Regions from separate parts of the Homo sapiens genome. Here regions 2, 3 and 4 are each linked to region 1. The links come from fine-mapping of genetic effects on gene expression. A gene starts in region 1. Each other region holds a variant in brackets. All regions are shown on one strand. Distances are between the middles of the regions.

What was found. PIP is the estimated chance that this variant, and not a neighbour inherited with it, causes the effect.
Region 2: its variant is the best candidate, but not a certain one, in a credible set for the expression of SVIL in aorta (GTEx, PIP 0.72).
Region 3: its variant is the best candidate, but not a certain one, in a credible set for the expression of SVIL in whole blood (INTERVAL, PIP 0.88).
Region 4: its variant is the best candidate, but not a certain one, in a credible set for the expression of SVIL in whole blood (TOPMed, PIP 0.58).

What each region holds. Positions count from the first base shown.
Region 1 is chr10:29,632,786-29,637,936 of GRCh38, forward strand. It overlaps SVIL (supervillin), which reads right to left and starts at 2,186. Exons shown (of 38, transcript NM_021738.3): 1 at 1,635-2,186. RefSeq lists a silencer at 1,995-2,289.
Region 2 is chr10:29,875,339-29,880,489 of GRCh38, forward strand. No RefSeq gene overlaps it. Among named protein-coding and RNA genes, the nearest start is that of JCAD, 180 kb to the right of the region's middle. The variant T/C (reference allele first, on the strand shown) is at 2,742.
Region 3 is chr10:29,801,197-29,806,347 of GRCh38, forward strand. No RefSeq gene overlaps it. Among named protein-coding and RNA genes, the nearest start is that of SVIL, 170 kb to the left of the region's middle. The variant C/T (reference allele first, on the strand shown) is at 2,175.
Region 4 is chr10:29,454,494-29,459,644 of GRCh38, forward strand. It overlaps SVIL (supervillin), which reads right to left. Exons shown (of 38, transcript NM_021738.3): 37 at 3,941-4,096; 38 at 2,845-3,840. The coding sequence ends at 3,754. The region is part of intron 2 of SVIL-AS1 (SVIL antisense RNA 1); the gene reads left to right. Among named protein-coding and RNA genes, the nearest start is that of SVIL-AS1, 48 kb to the left of the region's middle. The variant T/C (reference allele first, on the strand shown) is at 2,259.

The sequences.
Region 1 (5,151 bases):
CTTGTATAACATCAGCCTCATCCAGTGATCAAGGTGACCAAATAAATTATCTTTAACACACACACACACACACACACAGAGTATAGACTCCAAAGTTTCCATTGTAAGACAAATTCTCTGACACTAGTGCACACTTGATGCCCTGGATCCTCAAGACATCACCGGGTGCCGGGTGCAGGGGCTCACGCCTATAATCCCAGCACTTTGGGAGCCCAAGGTGGGCGGATCACGAGGTCAGGAGTTCAAGATCAGCCTGGCCAACATAGTGAAACCCCGTCTCTACTAAAAATACAAAAAAAAATTAGCTGGATATGGTGCCAGGTGCCTGTAATCCCAGTTACTTGGGAGGTTGAGGCAAGGAGAGTCACTTGAACCTGGGAGGTGGAGGTTGCAGTGAGCCGAGATCGTGCCACTGCACTCCAGCCTGGGTGACAGCACGAGACTCCATCTCAAAAAAAAAAAAAAAAAAAAAAGACATCACTGGTTTTGGTGAGAAGAGACAGCACACATCTGCCTGGCACTGGGCTGCTCTTCTTTGGAGACAGAGGGTACAATTTATATCCTGCAGTTTTACTCAACAGGGGATACCACCAGCAGTTTGGCCAGGGTAATGCTGTATGGGACTGTCCCCTACACCATGTAAATTGGGCATTTACAATTCTTAACCACATCCTCCCAAATGCCAGTGAGTCATTGAGAAAACCTGAAACACCCCCATGCATTTTCAAACGCCCCCTAGGGTTGCCACACTATCTCCGGTGAAGAACCCTCGCAGTATTCACCGATGAAGTTCTTCTCTATAAATACTCTGTTTTCCTACCTGGTAAAAATAATGACTGCCCGTACTTGTCCATCTGATGTGGTATAAAGAAATAATCTTTTTTTTTTTTCAAAGAAGCAACACGTCAAATAAGCCTTCTATGTTCTAGAGTTCACTGCTGTTTTTCAGCAGAAACAAATCACTGAGCTAAATTACAAAGAGACCATAGCAATCTCCAGGGCTTTAAAAGGCTGATGCAGTATTTTTTCTTGGAGAATTTAAAAATAAAATGCAGTTCAAACTCTAGAACCTACAGTGAGGTTTTTCTCATAAATTCTGGAACATCGCAAGTTCTAGAAATCAAGCCCTGAAGAATGAGAGTACCAAGGCAAAGAACCCTCAGAACAAAGATTATGCAAAAGGATCACTGGTGATTTTCTATTTTTACATGAATTATAATGGCAGTGAAATAAAACTTGCCCTTCTGAACTCCACCCCCATACTTGTGCTACGATTATTAAAGTACGTTGCATTGTGAATATACTTTAATTCCAAGACTTTAAGTGCTAACATTTAGACAGAATGTACTAAGTTATATTAATCAAATTTTTAGTATTAAACCTTTCTCTACCATAAAGTAAATCCTTTAAAAAAAAAAAAAAGTCCAATCCTTCTCAACCCAAGAAATATGCCCAAGGGTATCTACAGGAATGGCTGCAGTAACTGGCAAACGCTGGCAGGAATTTTCCAATGACTGAAGTCAACAAATCCTCAGGAAACATGCTCAGACAGATGGCACTTAAAAAAAAGCAAAAACAAAAACAACAAAAAAAAACCTACTGCATTTAGATTTATAGGAAGATTTTTCACTTACTTCAAATTTCTGTATAATCCTCGTTCCTCTAAGTTAAAGGGGGAAAGAAAATCACACTGCAATTCCTTATTTTTCTAATTTAAAAAACAAAACAAAACACGTTATACCCTCGAATCCAGCTTTTGATGTCTTCGAGTATTTTCTTGGAGTCTCTTTCCAATGAATACTACTTTCAAATTCTAAGCACAAAGTAAAATCCCAAAAGTTAGCCCAAATAGCGTTGTACAAAATCAAAGATCACGATGTCAGCAAGCAACTGCATCTATCAGAAGCGATGATGATTCAGAACAGGATAAATTTAGAATGGTGTTTTCCAAAAGGCTTTTTGGATGTCAAATTCAGGAAACAGGTAAAGGCTACATCCCAAAAGTTCCTCTCCAAAAAGAACGCCAAAATATTAATAAAAAGAGTCTTCTTTTTGAAGTTTTTCGTCCCCTAGTGTCCTCGAGGCTGAACTTCCCCAACCTGGCCTCGGTGGAGCCATCCATTACTGGGCAAATCCACATGAAACCTGAGGACACTTCAGCCTGGGGAGGACGCAGTCAGAGCAGTGAAGCAACTTCACATGGGACGGGCCTTTTATGGCCTGAACTCGAGAGCCTTGATACCAGCTCATCTACCAGAAATAGCCCTGGAAATTCAGAGGAGCCCATCAGCTGTTGCAGCAGGCCTGGCCAGCAGCTACTTCAAATGCAATTAGGTTGTCCACACTGTCTTTCAGCTTGTTGTATAGAGAAATTAAAAATACAACAGCAGTCTACTGAATAAGCTACAACAATACAGATTTGGATGAGCAAACATTTCTCTAACTTAGTTTTTTTAGGCTAAAAAAAGAGCACACAATCGTTGACAAAGCTCAGACACTGAACACCCCAAAAGTAAGTAACAGACATATATACAATGAATGCCCGAAAAGTAACTAACAGACATACACATCTATGAAACAGCATGATATAATGGCACATGTCTCTACAAGTTTACAAATTCTGTAACCTCTGTGGATTTCTTCCCACTTCCAATAACTGTAGAAAATGAATCATCAGAAGAAAGCATTGTGCTGGAAGTACTTTCTCGAAAATGACACAAATATTTTCTCTTAAAGCCAAAGTCAGTCCTCTGAACTGGCAAGATCTATCTTCCTATGGCTCTCAGGTAGCTCACCTCACTGAAAAACCAGATGAACCTAACCTAATGAAAAAAATATTAACTATGAAGCACAACCACTTCTTAAATGGCCATATGCATTTTTTTAAACATTAAAAGGCCACTGACATGTTGAATACACTCAAACAAATATCACAACCCTGTTTACAAAATACTTACAATTGTAGGTCTCTGTCCCTGTCGGTACCAAGAACAGAGAGTCTTAATTGTCTGCACCAACTTCAGTATAAACCACAAACCCCATAAGACTTGGGCTGGAGTACAGCAAAAGCTGTGTGCTGCGCGGGGCCTCCCAGTGGTATGCCTCTGGGTGTCAGGGTTCTCAGACCACCAGCTGCTTCGGCCAGCACAGGAGGCCTCTCAAAGCAGGATCTAAATTCCTGTTACTAATTAACCCTACAGAACAATGCCTCTCCCTAAGAGGACAGTCCTGAGGCCAGGTGAAAAGATGACAGGTATAATAATTAAACATTGGCTTCATGACTGTTTTGTGCTAGGGGTATTTGTCCCAGTCAACTGTTTTTTTTTTTTTTTACCCATCTCAAGATAACAAACAAACAAAATTTCATAGCATGGCTTTTGCATCCTAATCTCAGTCCTGACCCTGATCTTCTTTTCCCTTGGACCATATTGGCTTTTTCCTCATTTTAAAGTTTATTTGATCTTGTTTTACGTATTTTTATAAGCTGTGGTAAGCCCCTCCCTAGAGAAAAGTAGGGCAAAAATAAATAAAAACTTACATGAAACAGTTCACTATTTGGGTCTTCTCTGTAAAGAGAAGATAGGAGGAGAAAATGAATCACTGTTACCACAATAGTGCTATTTCCTTCCTAAAAAAAGATTCACTCCCACAAAATAAACATCAGTCTTTTGTGTGCCTCTTAAGTTTTTGCACACTGCTTCCCCATAGCAACCAAACTGTCCTAGATTAATACACTGGAGTCTAATAGGGTAAATCTCCTTCGTCACTTCTTTTATATATCCTTTCTGTCTTTGATTATTTAAATCCCAGTTAATTCTTCCTGTGCAATCCATTTACTTTCCTAATTTTTTTGCTATCTGCCTGGCTTAGAAGACTCATCATACTCACTTCTTTCCAATGATGATAATCATGAATTGGAAGAAAAATCAACACACAAAAGATGTCAATTGTCCCCAAACTGATCTACAGATTAACAAAATTCCTATCAAAATCTTGCAAGGTTTTTTTGTTTTGTTTTGTTTTGTTTTGTTTTTTTGAGACATGGTCTTGCTCTGTTGTCCAGGCTGGAGTAGAGGTGTGCAATCATGGCTCACTGCAGCCTCAACCTCCCCAGGAGGCAGTCCTCCTGCCTCAGCCTCCTGAATATCTGGGGCTACAGATGTGCACCACCACACTGGGCTAATTTTTTAATTTCTTAGTTTTTGTAGAGATGGAGTCTCATTAGGTTGGCCAGGCTTGTCTTGAACTCCTGGGCTCCAGCTGTCCTCCCACTTCGGCCTTCTTAAGTGCTAGGATTACAGGTGTGAGCCACCCTGCCTGGCCTCACAGTGATTTTTGGCAGATATTCTAAAATTTATAGTAAAGGTACAGGCCCTAGAATAGCTAAAAACCATCTTGAAAAAGAAGAAAAAAGTTAGTCTGGGCGTGGTGGCTCATGCCTGTAATCCCAGCACTTTGGTAGGCCGAGGCGGGTGGATCACCTGAGGTCAGGAGTTCGAGACCAGCCTAATGAACATGGTGAAACACTGTCTCTATCAAAAATACAGAAAAATTAGCCAGGCGTGGTGGTGCACACCTGTAATCCCAGTTACTAGGGAGGCTAAGGCAGGAGCATCGCTTGAACCCAATCCTGGGAGGCAGAGGTTGCAGTGAGCCAAGATCATGCCACTGCACTCCAGCCTGGGCCACAGAGTGAGACTCCGTCTCAAAAGAAGAAAAAAGTTAGAGCAATGAATCTATCCCATATTAAGGCCTACTGGATAACTACAGTAATCAAGACAACACAGCATTGGCAAAAAGAGAGACACATAACATAGATCAGTGGAACAGACTGGAGAACCCAGAGACAGGCCCACATGAATATGCCAAACTGATTTCTGTGCCATTCAACAAACAGTGCTAGAGCAATTAGACACCCCTAGGCAAAAGCAATGAGCTTCTACCCAATCCTCATTGTGGTACATCCATACCATGGAATACTACTCAACAATAAAAAGGAACAAATTATTAGTACGTTCCACGACCTGGATAAGAATCCAGGGAATTAAATTATGCTGAGTGACAGAAAGCCAATCCCAAAATGTTAGATACTATACGAGTACACTTACATAGCATTTCCCAGATGACAACATTATAGAAATGGAGAAGAGA
Region 2 (5,151 bases), 240 kb after region 1:
GGTAGTTTCTTTTATTTCAAAAAATTTTAATTATAAAAATAAGAAAGAATCTGCTGAACCAAATGAAGTCGTGATCCCAAACAGGAAACAGAGAGACGAGACCACCATTCATCTGGGGTGGATCTTCTGGGATTCAGGGAGGTCACCTCTGGAGGTCTTCTTTCAGCTGGCTTGGCTTTACCACTCTATTTTAAGTCCAGGGACTGTCGCATTTGAACATATTTATATTTGGTCCAGGTCACATAATCCATAAAACTGGTTTTGTTCGGCATTTTTTTTCCATTAACTGCCCATTCTCGCTCCCTAGTAATGCCAGCTTTTCCATGTGAAGTGTATTTAGTAAATGGCTTTTCCTCATCACCCGTTTTCTCCCTAAATCTCCTATAATCTGTAATTTACCCTCACCCCTCTACTGAAACTGTGCTCTTGGAAATCACAAGAACTTCCTTTAGGCCAACCAAAGAAACTTCTCCAGTATTCTTTTTCGTTGCTCTTCCCAAGACCCTTGGCCCTGTTAGCGCCTTCTCTCCTTCAGACCCCCGAGTGCCTGGGCTTCCTGCACTCCCTGTGGCCATGTCTTCTCTCGAGGGGGGTCCATTCTCTCTGGGGTGTTCTCCAAGGCTTGGCTCTTGTCTCTAGACTTAATTTTCTCCATGTTAATCTTGGCTTATTCTCCTATCTTCAGCTGTCAACATTATTTATGCAATTCCCCAGTCCACATCTCCCACACTGTCTCTCTCTCAGTTCCCAGCCAGTATTTCCATCACCTTCTGAACAATTCCACTTGTTAAATTTGCTTCAACCTGGCACCTGAAGCTCCACAGACCACCTGCCAAGATCAATTTCCTGCCTCCACGTTGACTCCCTCTCCTGACGTCTGTCCCCATGGAGCTATCATTTCATCTCTGAATTACTCACACTGGCGAACTCAGAGTCATCTTTGCCCTCTTTTCCTGAACTTCAAGGTCCAAAGGAACAGGGGTAGTGTCCACCGCTCTCAACCACCATCTCCACAGGGCCTGGCCCAGGGCTTGTCGCATACTAAGAATGCAATACGTGTATGCTGGATGAACGAGTGAAGGTTCTCTTTCGTTACCCGCATTCCCTCAGGCATAAAGTTCATGAATCCATCAGCCAGTCTACACGTATATGTTTGGGGAGGCTGTAAAGGGAACTGACTGAGAATGGAGCTTCTTGAGTCAGACTGCCTGGGTTTGGATCTTGGTTCAGCAGCTTCCTACCTGCGTGACCTGGAGTATGTTACTTAACCTCTTGATACTTAAGTTCTTGCTCTGTAAAGTGAGAAAATAATAATACTTATCTGGGTGCGTTGGTTTGAGGATTAAATGAGATGATCTCTATAAAATGGATATATTAAGTGTTCAGTAAATCATGGTTGCTGCTGCTGCACATGGTGGCAGGGGAGAGGCATGGGCTGGCCTGGTGACCAGTGACATCTGGAAGCCCTTGAGATGCTATCAGGACATCTTGTCAGGGCTTCAGGACAAGCAATAACAACAGAAGGCCAAGGTTCAAGGTGTGTTTGGGGTGGAGGGTTGAGAGCTCTGATGGGGATGAAAAATAGCAGGAGAGAAGGCAGACTGAAACTGACCTCGTAGGGAAATGGTTCAAACTGTGCTCCCTAAGGCCATGGGGTTTTCTTCAACGGGTCTCTAAGGCTACTCGGGTGGGGCTGAGGTAGGGTGGGTGAAGGATTGGAAACCAAAGTGTGCAGGGTGGGCCGATTGGAGCGGGAGGATTGCCGGGCTGTGTTTAGAGGCAAGTATAGTGGCTCTCCTGTGATCTGCTCCGCATCTCGGGTTTCTGTGTGAGATCTCCTTTGAAGCAAGAGTTCTGCTGCTTTATCAAAGCATGAGCATTGTCGTGTGGGCCTTGAAGGCAAGCTGAGGCATATGAGCTTTCTACGGCCAGCAGCGGGGAAGCCGGGGGTGGGGGCAGATCCTGATGGAAGAGTAACAAGACTAAAGTGACGCTTTGTTAGAACCATTCTTCCGATAATTCATTTGCCTGGAATGAGGAGCAAACACATTTGCCAGGCAGGAAGGGCCACTACGAGATGGATCCCCTCTACTGTCCCTCTCCCTTGCTAAGCCTCCTCATGGCCGGCAGCGTGTCTCTGCTCTCCCAATGTCCTGCCTGAACCATGGCAGCAGGCCCCTAACCCTCTGCTGTGAAACTCTGGCCCCTCCATGGGGGTCAGCTCTCCAAAATCTTGTCATTCCATCCCACTTGCCAAAACGTCTAGCGGTTCATTTTTGGTTGTGGGATTATGAACCACACTCTTTTGCTTAGCATTCAAGGCCCCATTATGAAGACAATCTGCCTTCCTAGTCCCATCTGCTACCGGTCTCACATCTGTTCCCAGCTGGTGAAACCTTCTTACAGGACTCGGTACTCCCAACACAGTGCCTCTATTTTCTCCTGTACATTTCATGCCATCCTCGGGTCCTAGGATGCATCCTCTCCCCCACCACACACACACCTGTACTTAGTTTACTATCCTAGTGGACTTCACACACTCCGCAAGCCTTTTTTGACCATGTTTGGTTACATCTGTCTCTTTCCATAGGAATGCTCCAAGGAACCCTGCCACATAAATACTTATCCTGGCACTAATCAGTATTTTTTTTAGTTGTGTCACCTAACATAGCGCTGAGCTCACTGCACATCCACAAACCCAAATAATGTTAATGTAGCTGTACTGGGAACATTTCAGATGT[T/C]TTTCCTCCCAAACTGGAGCACCCACTTAGGCCATCCTTCAAGGCCAGAGGCCACTGGTGACCTGCCCAGTCCATTCCCTCAGCGCCTGGTCTCCCCAGACCAGCCTGTGACCAACCCATGAGGTCACAGGACAGGAACAATACAAGGGCTTTGTGTAGATGCTTGTGTTTTCAGAAGTGGCTCGAGTCCAGCCGGCATTCCTTCTTGACTGGGACTTTTTAAGAAATGTTTTCCCGACAAATGTCAGCAGGATTGAGATCCACCACACGGTTTATTAAAGGAACAAAAGCTTTGCCCTGACAGCCCCAGCAGCAATCTCGGTTTCCCCTGGGGACAGTCGGCCTGCGTGTTCCAGTCGGAAGCCAGAAGGAGATGGCCTGACATGGCTGTAAATGACTTCTCCTAACCACAGGCAAGAAGGACAAGAGGAATTTCGGGACCTGCGGTAGAGTCAAAGCGCTTCCTGTTCCTCCCTTAGCCCAGGCCCCACTTGCCAGCCCCAAACAGCACTGCCACCAAGGCGTGGCTCTTCTCACAGATGCCACATCATCTATAAAAAGCCTTCTCTGCCTTGCAGGTGCTAATGTTCTAGGGAGAGACAGACACTTTACAACCCGTTTCATGAGCTTCCTCTTGCAAGACGCAGGAACCACGGCACAGATGGCTTCGTTGCCATTGACAAATCATCCTCAGGGACCTTTCACAGCATTGCTAGGTATTAACATAAGACACACCAGGAATTACGTGCATCAAGTCCCAGTCCTCAGGGAGCTTCAAGTTTAAGCAGAGGAATGAGATCGGCCAATAATAATAATAATAATAATAATAATAATAATAAATAATAATAAATAAATAAGTTATGTTTTCAGCTAGCTCAGGCTAGAGGCCAGTGCAATTCAGGGAGACAGTGTTTGTTGTAGGAGCTGAAGACTGGCAGATGTATGTGGCTGGCTTATCAGCAAAAGGTCCAGGAGCCAGGATGGGAAGAACTTGAGCTTGATCTTAAGGAATGATCCATCCATGGATCAGCTAGGGAGGAGAGGAGTCCTGACTGAAATCAAGACACCATGCCCAGAATTAGGACCATGACCTAACTGGCTTCTAGACTTCATGGATTTCTTCTGTGGGTGTCTAGAGAACTTCCTTTGGCTTTAAGCAACCTTGCTGTGAGGTGCCAGGATTACAGAAGATGGGATCTGAGTGGTCCCATCTGATGATGCCACAGAAAGGATCCAGGCTGATTCTGGTCTCAACACATACCTTTGGTTTCTGGCCACAGTCAACCATGCTATGGGGTTACCCAGAAGTCAAAGGTCAGGTCCTGTGAATAAGCATCCAAACCTTGAGTTAAGATGGGACTACTGTCACCTCAGCTGTTCACAAGGTAGGACAGGAGACAAGATGGGAAAAGCCACCAGGCTAACCAATAGCAGCCTTCCCTCCTGATTCACCATCACAGCAGGAATCACCTAGATTTGGAAGCAGCCATTCCTTCCAAGAGCCCTGCTTCCTTCTACTAGGCCTGTTGATTATATTTTAAGACAGAAAGTACGAGTCTCTTTATGTCCATCAGCCTGGACCTGAAAGGTGACATCTATGTCTACACCCCCACTCCAAAGCCTCCTACACAGTGGCTGGCTCCACTTCATCTCAAAGGTCTGGAATGGATGATGTTCTGTGGTCCCTTTACAAAGCCTCTTGCATCCCAAATGTGTAAATTATTTTATTCTTGGTATTTCTCGCTTACCCATAGTCACCTGTCAAGTGTTCCACCCTGTCGAATGCAGGGAAAAACTCAATTCATATATAATGCCCAGTCCCAAACTTCACTCGCGGTTTCCAACATCTTCCTTGTAAAATCTTTGTCTGAAGCCATCACAAAATGGTAACATTGCTTGATTTCCACATTATCTTTCTGTCTTCAATTAATGAGTTGGCTGACCTCGAGCTAGGCAATTTGGCATTCACTCTTTCCAGTTGTGTAATGAGGGTGGTGCTCTTCTGGGGGCTTGGCAATCTCTTCCAGGACTCACATTGTGAGATTCTCTCCAGAGAAGAGACTTGTGTGATGCTTTCTAGACACTCTATTCTCTTCTGCTATAAGCAGGGCGATTGCTGAGCAAGGGGCAGGAAGTACTTAGAGCTTTGCCCTAGACTTTGGAAAGACCTGGGTGAGAAGTCAGGCTGCACATCTTCGGCCCGCTCTGACCTCAGAAGGCTGCTTCTCTCATGGAAGGCAGTGGGAGCACCCAATGAGCTAATGCATGTGAAATACTTAGCACAGTGCTTGCCTCAGAGCATGCACCTACAATATGTTAGTCCAAAGAAAACAAAAGGTCAAAGGTAAAAAGTAGGAAAAAAGGGAAGGGGGCTTAGGCCAACCCCAGACTATGTACCAAGCCCCACTTC
Region 3 (5,151 bases), 170 kb after region 1:
GGGGATTACATTCTTTTTTTTTCTTTTTTTGAGATAGGTCTCATTCTGTCATCCATGCTGGAGTGCAATGGTGCGATCAAAGCTCACTGTAGCCTGGAAACTCTAGGCTCAAGCAATCCTCCCACCTTAGCCTCTTGAGTTACTGGGACTATAGGCATGCATCACCACACCTGGATAATTTTTTTTTTTTTTGTAGATATGGGGTTTTGCCATGTTGTCCAAGCTGGTCTCAAACTCCTGGGCTCAGGGGATCCTTCCACTCCTGCCTCCCAAAGTGCTAGGATTACAGGCATGAGCCACCACATGTGGCCAGGGATTACATTTCAACATGAGATTTGGAGGCAACAAACATCCAAACTATATCAAGTAAGAAAGGCAAGAAGGGCTAGGAGTCTAGCTCATGAAAAAGTAGGGTAATGGGTAGTAGGGACTGGCTCACTTGGAGTTTTGTGAGCCATAGTAGTTTGGATTTTATCCTCACTTCAGTGGGAGGCATTGGAGGATTTAAGCAGACGAGTGATATGATCTGATTTACATTTTCTGGAAGATCACTCTGGCCACTGTGGGGGGAGGATTTCAGTGAGATGAGTGTAATCAGAGCAGCTGGAAGGCTGCTGAGATACCCCAGGTGAAAGATGACAGCGGCTACAATGGTGAGATCCTGGGAAATGGTGAGAGGTGATGGGTGTGGGGTGTATTTTGGAGGTGGAGCCCATAGGACTTGCTGATGTGTGGGAATGAAGTAAAACAGAATCAAGAATGACTCCTTGGTGTTTGTCCTGAGCAACTGGGCATATGGGGGTACCATTTAGTTCAGAGGGGGAAGATTCTGGAAGGACCAAGTTTGGGGAAGAAAGGGGAGAAAAAGATCAAGTGTTCTGTCTGGATCCTGTTCAGTTTAAGACTCCAATTCAACACTCAAGTAGAAACTTCAAATATGTAGCTGAAAAGGTTATTGTTACAGATGAAAATTTGAGAAAGAATGATTTAGAATTAGATGGTGACATGGTTTGGTTGTGTCCCTACCCAAATCTCAACTTGAATTGTAGTGTATCTCTAAATTCTCACGTGTTTTAGTAGGGACCCAGGAGGAGCAAATTAAATTGTGGAGGCCGGTCTTTCCCATGCTATTCTCACGATAGTGAATAAGTCTCATGAGGTCTGAAGGGTTTATCAGGGCTTTCTGCTTTTGCTTCCTCATTTTCTCTTGCCACTGCCATGCAAGAAGTGCCTTTTGCCTCCCACCATGATTCTGAGGCCTCCCCAGCCAAGTGGAACTGTAAGTCCAATTAAACCTCTTTTTCTTCCCAGTCTCAGTTATGTCTTTATCAGCAGGGTGAAAACAGATTAATACAGATGGCTACACATAACAAACAATCCTAAATATCAGTGATTTACATAAGCCCAGGTTTTTCTTCTTTTCCACTTAATGAAAATCTGGAGCTAGGCAAGTAGGGGCTGATATGGGGTGGGGGGGGGGGTCCAGTATTGGCAAGGAAGCAGGCACTTGTCTTTTAGCTTTATCATCCTCAGCATGTGTCTGCCACCCTTAAGGTTACCCATGGTCCAGTAAGTAGGGACTATGGAGCTTTTATCATTAATTCCACATCCCAGGTAGTAGGAAGACTGTGGCAAGGATCAAAGCTGCAGCTGCAGGTCCCTTTGAAGAGCCTTCTTTTTTTTTCTTTTTTTTTTTTGAAGACAGGGTTTTCCTCTGTTGCCCAGGCTGGAGTGCAGTGTTGTGAACACAGCTCACTGCAGCCTTGACCTCATGGGCTCAAGTGATCCTGCTGCCTCAGCCCCCTAAGTAGCCAAGACTACAGGTGCACACCACCACACCTGGCTAATTCTTGTATTTTTTGTAGAGATGAGGTTTTGCTATGTTGCCCAGGCTGGTCTCGAACTCCTGAGCTCAAGAGATTTGCCTGCCTTGGCCTCTCAAAGTGCAGGGCTTACAGGTGTGAGTGAGGAGCCTTCTTTACATGCTGTCTGACATGTCATTGTTCAGAACTTAATTACACGGTTGCAAGGGAATGTGGTAAGTGTAGCCTTTTCATAGGGTGCCTTGCAGCCCTTAATAACATCTGTCATTAGATTTCTAAATAATGGGTACAGTCTTGGCTATAAGAGTCATCAGTGCAAACAGTGTTTACAGCCATGGCATTGGACGATGA[C/T]GTGATCGGCAGAGGAAGGGAAACCAATCACAGAGGTGCTCATCCACAGCTGTAACGTGCCTCTGGCTCACAGAAACATGGAGCACCAGAGCTTGGCTTGGCTTGTATTGGTCATTCTTTGTCTTATTCCTGGGCCATGCATTTTTATAGCACGTGTTTGTCCTTTTCCTTTTGACCTACTTTACCCTTATACAACCTAGTTGAGTTTTATGCACTCTTTCAAGAAGCCCTTCTAGAACACGACTGTGTATAAATAAATAACAAACAAAGCTTTGATCAGTCTTCCTCTGTCAGAATGGGGAAAGAAGGCGAAAGAAGTAGAAAAAGAGGAAGTAGAGGAAGGGAAAGGGGCAGGAAATGAGTGGAAAGCAAACTGAGTGATTGAGGAGATTTTTGTTGGGGGTCGGGGAGATGCCTCAGAGCTTGTGTATTTACATGAGTCATCTGGACACGCTGAAACCCAGTTTCAACTTGAAGGGTTCCTCTCCAACCAACTGCTTCCTGGGGTCTGTCTGGAGAGTTACCAGAAGGTAATCTTCAACTAGAAGTGATTATTAGGTGGGCATAGGCAGCTGTTGTTGGCAAAGGAAATGCATTTCTTTTTGCTTACCTGTGACCAGTGGTTTGAGTCTCATGGAAGAAGCTCTCAATGATAGAAACTGAAGTCAGTGCCACATATGTAATTATATAAAGAACTTTGTGATTGCAGCTCAGGAAATGGTCTGGGTTTCAGACGTCCTCTGTCCTCACTGATGATGGCTGAAACTGAGGGTTTCAAAGTCTCTGGTTGGTGCCAGAGGGTACAGTTGGGTACAGAAAAGTGAGGAAATACTCTGGAGTCAAATAAAAATGCAAGAAGCAGAGAGCTTTTGAGGATATACAATGTGACGCTTAATGTTTGTCTTCCTTAAATGTCCTCAGTGCCACCATGACTAAGTTCTGGAAACAGAGAATCCTGTTTTGATTCTGTGACTCAGAGGGCATAATATGTTGGCTCTTTGCCCTGGGGCCCAGGGTATCCAGTGAAGCAAAAACAACTAGGCTACAGCTGCACTTCCCTGTGCTGCATGCTGCAGGGGCTGGAACCAGAAAGGCCACAGGGAATCTGAGAAAATTCACTTCTCTTAAGCTTCTCACTATTTCTCCAAAGCAAAGACAGGAGGGCTGCTGCCAGGACTGTGAGAGTTTGTACAGTATTGTGGTGCAATTGCAAAAGGCGTGCTTTCTCCTGGCAGGTGCAGCCCCCACACAGGGCTCAGCATGTGGTTAGTGGAGAACAGGCTGGATTTAGGTCCCCATCCTCCCTCTCAGCAGAGCATCCCTGCAGAGAGAAAAACCCACACACCCACCCACCTGTGGTAGCGCTGGCTGCTACCTACTTCACACATCCTGCCTGATAAGGTTTGGCTGCGTCCTCACCCAAATCTCACCTTGAATTGTAACTTCCATAATTCCCAAGTGTTGTGGGAGGGACCCAGTGGGAGATAATTGAATATGGGGGCAGTTTCCCCCATACTGTTCTTGTGGTAGTGAGTAAGTCTCTTGAGATCTGATTTTTATAAGAGGTTTCCCCTTTTGCTTGGGTCTCATTTTCTCCCTTGTCTGCCACCATGTAAGATGTGCCTTTCACCTTCTGCCATGATTGTGAGGCCTCCCCAGCCATGTGGGACTGTGAGTCAATTAAACCTCTTTTTCTTTATAAATTACCCACTCTCAGATATGTCTTTATCAACAGCGTGAAAACGGACTAATACACTGCCTGTCACCACTGGGGCTGTCCCAATGCTTCATGCCCTTGGAGTGGTGGCCTCTGAAGCAGAGTTTAGTGTGTAGCATGTGTCTGAGGCGTGTGCTTGAGATCAACTCCCGTGGCAGGGAGACAGAAGGCAGGAGAGTGCGAGGGAGAAGTCAAACTGTGATGAAATCTGATGATGGCCTTGGGCAGCCCTGTGGGGAGCCCTGGAGCTAGAATGTTCTCCAGTGTTGGACCAAGCTGGTCAGGCCTGTATCCCTCTGTGGTTTAGGGTAAAGCCGCTCTTCAGCTAAGATGAGTCCTGAGTTGGGGCAGCTGACAGCTGACACCCAGCCACCAGCATGCCCAGTGGTGGGGGCAACAAGTCTGTCCATGAAGGGAGATATAGAAGGCATGTCACAGTGTCTGCCACACCACCCCAAGGCTGCCCTTTAATAACCTAGTTTTCTGCTTCAAGGCTTCCCTTGATATTAAATTTCATCAGAGTTCTACAGCATGCCAAGATTTGAGGGGCAGGATAAAAAAATCACCCTACTGTCAATGCCATAGGCATTGCCTAACCATGATAATCAGAGAAAGCCGCTTTTACCCTAGTGTCTCTCAATTTTGACCCCAAATTAAGCATAATGCCAAAAGAAACATTTTGGGACTCTCTGAAAGGTCTAGGAAGGGAAGAAGCTTGCTGGGTGCATTCTGCAGGGACATCAGTTTACTGTCCACACTTTTTGTGGTCCATATCTTCTCCGAGGCCCTCATGCTGAGAAAATCTCACAGGAATCCCATATTCAGCCTCAGGGGAGGAAGGTCCGTGCGAAACACAAGAAGGAAGATGATTGGGGGCCGTGGAAGAGAGAGGCAATGTCACCTTATCCCAGGAGACCTCCAGCAGGTCCCTGGAAACAGGGGCAGGGGACAGGGGTGAGGCAGGGTGGGGAGCCCTAGATCCCAGGCCAGACCACTCGGTCAACCCCTGGCCTTGCTGCCCATGAGGTCTGCAGCTGTGGGAAAGTTCCTTAATTGTTCCATGCCTCAGTTTCCCCATCTGAGAAATTAGGATTGATAGTACCAACCTCAGAGGGCTCCTGCCAGGATGAACTCACACGAATCCCTTGAAGAGGGCCTGACCCGCACTGCACTCAGGAGCTGTGGCTACAAGAATGGGAGCAAGAAGGAAGGATCCCCTGAGTCTGGGGGTTGAGACAAGGCCAGTTCCTTCCCCACGGA
Region 4 (5,151 bases), 180 kb before region 1:
GCAATCATCACCACAATCCAGTTTTGAGACATTTCCATTACTCCAAAAAGATCATTCATGCCATTTGCAGTTAACCACCACTCCCATCTCCAACCTCAGCTACTGTTGATCTTGCTGTTTGCACAGATTTGCCTTTATGGGAAGTTTCATATAAAAAGAATCAAACAATATGTGGCCTTTTGCATCTGGCTTCTTTCACTTAATGCTTTTGAGGCGTATGCATGTTGTAGTGAGTATCAGGTGTACGTCATGTATACGCAGGAATATCTGTCCCTTTGCTGTCGGGGAGGACGCCATCGCATGGAGGTCCTGCATTTTGTTTTTCTGTTTCTCAGTTGACGGTCATGTGGATTGTTTACAGGTCTGGGCTATTATGAATAATGCCACTATGAACATCTGTGTCCAGGTTTCTGAGTGGACACACACGGCTAATTTTATAATAAAAAAAACAAAACCAAAGGACCAAAATGAATTCTGGAACTGTTTCTGGAATACGTTTCCTTTTACCAAAATGGGAATTCTAATAGCAGGGCAGGAAATGTAAAGTAGGAGAGAAAGAAGTGGGCTCACAGCAGCCTTTCCCCTCCTCGGATTTGGGAACAAAGAGGCAGGATTGTCCCACTCTAGAAGTGGCTCATATTCGCACAGTTCATCCAAAGCTACAGAACACGCTCAACATCCCATCTGCCCCGCGGCACCTCTGATATCGATCTCAATCCAAACACCCACCCCTCTCTTGAGTCTCTTAGTTCAAGGACAGCAAATTCAGGACATCGCACTTCCCTGCCCCTGATGCATTTAGTGAGAGCGGGGGTTTGAGTTTGGATGACTGTGGAGAAAAGCCCCAAGCACCAGTGTCAATTCCTGGGCTGAGACTTTAAGGTTTAGCAATTCAAGTGTTTCAGCTAGGTCCCTTCCCAGTGTACAAAGGTCAAAGTTTGCAGTTATGGAAGGAAAAGGATCAGAAAAAACCATGGAAAATAGGATCTGGTTCTATAAGCAGGAAAGAGATGCAGGAAACAATTTAGAGGAAAAGAGGCAAAAAGTATACTGGCTCTCCAAGCTGGGGTGTCTTATTCACCAAGAAGTGGCGAGAAGCAGACAGACAGCACGTTTTGTCGGGGGACAGTGGTTTTTGTTTTTTTGTGTTTTTTTTGAGACAGAGTCTCACTGTATTGCCCAGGCTGGAGTGTAGTGGTGCAATCTCGGCTCACTGCAACATCGGCCTCCCAGGCTCAAGCGATTCTCATGCCTCAGCCTCCCAAGTAGCTGGGATTACAGGTGTGCGCCACCACACCCAGCTAATTTTTGTATTTTTAGTAGAGACAGGGTTTTGCCATGTTGGTCAGGCTGGTCTCAAACTCCTGACCTCAAGTGATCCACCTGCCTTGGCCTCCCAAAGTGCTGGGATTACAGGCATGAGCCACCGCACCTGGTTGCCAATGTTTAATACAAGTGGATAGACACAGTTTTAAAGGACTTTGGGAAAATCTGGTGTTAATGAATATTAATGAGGACATCTGTCTTATTTATTCATTACAGCGGCTCTCCACTGGTAGTTCCTGTAGCAACTCAAGCTCCTTCCTGGGTATCTAAAGATTCAGGTGATATCTGGAACCTGCTGCAGAGGTTGCAATCCTGCCTCTTTCTGACCCTCAGGTTGCCCTAGTGACTCTAGGAACCTTTCTCCATACCTCTTGCGTGTTATCTATGGAACATGGACTTTGAACCTCTCTTCTTTTTCGTCTCCTTGCTTTGATTTAATCCATCATTTCTAGGTGCATGACAACACTCCCTAACTTAACCCCCCTGCTTTCCCATTTTAACTACCATCACAATAATCTTAATACTGGCAGGTATCTAGCACTTGGCGATTTTCAAAGAGCTTCCACTAGTTCCTTGCTCGGAATCTTGTGATGCAGGCAGGATAGCTAGGAGTGTCTCCTTTTAAAGGAAATCAAGGTAGAAAAGTTCAGTGATGACCCAATATCATAAAAATCATAAAATGGTGAGACCAGGAGCAGGTTATAGGTTTCTACCCTGGTGCGGTCCCAGGATGGGGCCTGTAAGTCCTGAAGTTTCAGGCAAATGTGCTGTGACTGGATGTGTTAAATTAGACTAACAGGGAGTGGGGAAGGGCTATGACAATTCAGAGTAGGTCTGTAGAATATGTTCACAAAACCATGGATTTAAGAACATGGGAGCTTGTGAGGAGTTTTCTAACTCATTTTTTAAGTTTTCTAGATGTCTTATCCATA[T/C]AATTTTTTTTTTTTTGAAATGGAGTCCCACTCTTGTCACCCAGGCTGTAGTGCAATGGCGCGATCTTGGCTCACTGCAACCTCCGCCTCCCAGTTTCAAATGATTCTCCTTCTTCAGCCTCTTGAGTAGCTGGGATTACAGGCATGTGCCACCATGCCTAATTTTTGTATTTTTAGTAGAGACTGGGTTTCAACATGTTGGCCAGGCTGCTGTTGAACTCCTGGTCTCAGGTGATCCGCCTGCCTCAGCCTCCCAGAGTGCCGGGATTACAGGTGTGGGCCACCTCGCCTGGCCCATACAATTTTTTAAAGGGCATTGAGATCCTAAAATTGAAATTGTAGATAGATATAGCTGTGGGATAAAGAACTTCTGCTGAATGATGATTTGCAAAAGTATGTCTTCATTATAGTACTGAGTACTAATTTTATGGGGCAAATAACTCTGTATTTAATCTTATGACCTTGTATAAAATCTTGCCCTAAACTAAATTCAAATGTATAGTCATTTATACTTAATTACAAAATTTGGTGCTATGTTAATATTTACCAAAAAAAAAAAAAATTCCAGAAAGGAACATGCTTGGAATTCAATGTGAACCAGTTAATTGTTGTGTTTATTCTGATACTTTTATTTGGGAGTCCTATATCACAAAATGACATGTGTACTGTTTACAACCGGTATTAGAAATTGAGATGTTTTTATTTTGACTATTTGAGAGTAAAATTGTAGATAATGTTCCAAACCATCATCAAAAATGCAGAGCAAACTTTTCTGTATATAAACTGTACATAAAAACAAGGCACTATACATTTTTGGGGAGATATTAAGGTAGAAAGGTTGATTCGCATAGATTCTCCAGAGTCCATGCCATTAAGTACAAATTCTTTGTTCATTTTAGCACCGGAAGCAGTACTCAGAACAAGTCATACCTAATGCTGCAGGAAACATTTCCAAACGTGTATGAAGATACATATTGGTGGCAGAGCTAATTCAACAGAAGCAACTCCATCTACCTTTTCATGTTATTTTGACACCAAAACAAATCTTGAAAGTGAATGAATACATATTGCTTTGTTAAATACATATTTGACTTATATGGTGTTTATATAAATATATATATATTTTAGAATCCACAAACTATCAAAATAACACTTTATAAAGAGAACTGCTTCAAAAAAAAAAAAAAAAGGCATTGCCTAGCTGGAACAAGAAGGCAGTGCTATCTATAGCAGCTGCGGCTTAAGTGCACATAACAGATACTTTTATTAATTCTGATAACCTCCTGAATGGTGGAAAGAAGTTTCCAAACAGTTCCCTTGAACATTTACAAAATACACAACTCCGGGACAAGCAGTATCTTTAACAATGTCAGGTTCTGAAAACTCTGATTGAAAAATACTTTGTGAAAAACACCAGTCCAAAAATATATATCCATTTCCCTGGTGCAGTGGTGTTGTTGGACGTGACCGTGAGGCTCCTCTGGCGTCTCCCCACTCAGAACAGGCCTTTTGCTTTCTTCAGGTTCACCTGCTTCCAGGCGGGCAGGGCGTTGTATTCATCCCTCGTCATGTCTAGTGCAAACTGGAAACATTGGGAGAAGCGCCCCGCGGCTCAGTGAAAGGAGCCGGGCGTGCGTGTGTTGTTTTACTCCCATCCCCACCCCACCGGAAGAACCGCTTACCTCGAAGTCTTCGTCGGTGAGATAGATCTCAAGCTTCAGAGGATCGACCCCCTCCGGGAGTGGCCTGGCCAGGAGGTCGGCCAGCGGGTAAATGGTTTTACAGAGCTTGGCTAAGACGTCTTCCACGAGGGTGATCTGATTGGAAACTTCCGTGTCCTAGAGAAGAGGAGGGGGCAGAGAGGAGAGCTCGTGTCCTACATTTGAACTTGTTTTATTAAGTGCTTACAGACACACAGCCCTGTGCCACCTGCATACTGCCTGAGGATGCATAGTTCCATATCACTGAGGAGGAAATGGCTCTGAAAGAAAAGGGATCGCCCAAAGCCCTGCAGTTGTCTGGACTTTTAATTTTTAAAATTTTTAAATTTTAAATTAAAAAATGGTATTTTTTGAGACAAGGTCTCACTCTGCTACTCAGGCTGGAGTGCAGTGGTGCAATCATAGCTCACTGCAGCCTCCAGCTCCTGGGCTCAAGTGATCCTCCTGCCTCAGCCTCCTGAGTAACTGGGACTATGAGTATGCATCACCAGGCCTGGCTAATTTATTTTTCCTTTTCCATTTTTTTTTTTTTTTTTGTAGAGACTGGGTCTTGCTATACTGCTTAGGCTGGTCTCAAACTTCTGGCCTCAAGCGATCCTCCTGCTGGGATTACAGGTGTGAACCACCACACTTGACCCCAAATTTTGTTATTTTTTAGAGACAGTGTCTCACTGTAACCCAGGCTGGAGGGCAGTGGCTCAATCATAGCTCTCTGCAGCCTTAAACTCCTGGACTCAAGCAGTCCTCCCACCTCAAGCCTCCTGAGTAGCTGGCACTATTGGCATGTGCCACCACGCGCACCTAATAATTTAAAAAATTTTTTTGTAGAGATGATGGAGTCTTGTTTCTCTGACTTATAGATCTTTTCTCACCTTGTCACAGAGTTTTAAACAAACCCTGTCTCAGAACTGTCTCTGGAAAAATGTTTAGGGACTGTCCCATGAGTGAATTATGGACTAAGATTAGTAGATTTGAAGTCTAAACACCAGAAGCCTCCAAATAATGGAATTTGTTTAAAAATAAATATTAAAAAATAACCTGAAAAGAAATCACACCCCCCTTCCCTCCCCTGGCCCCATTTCTTAATCTGCAATAGAAAAAGAAGGTCAGAAAATGCACCTAGAATATTCTGGAGCAGAATCAATTTTTTTGTTTTTAAAACCACTGTGTGA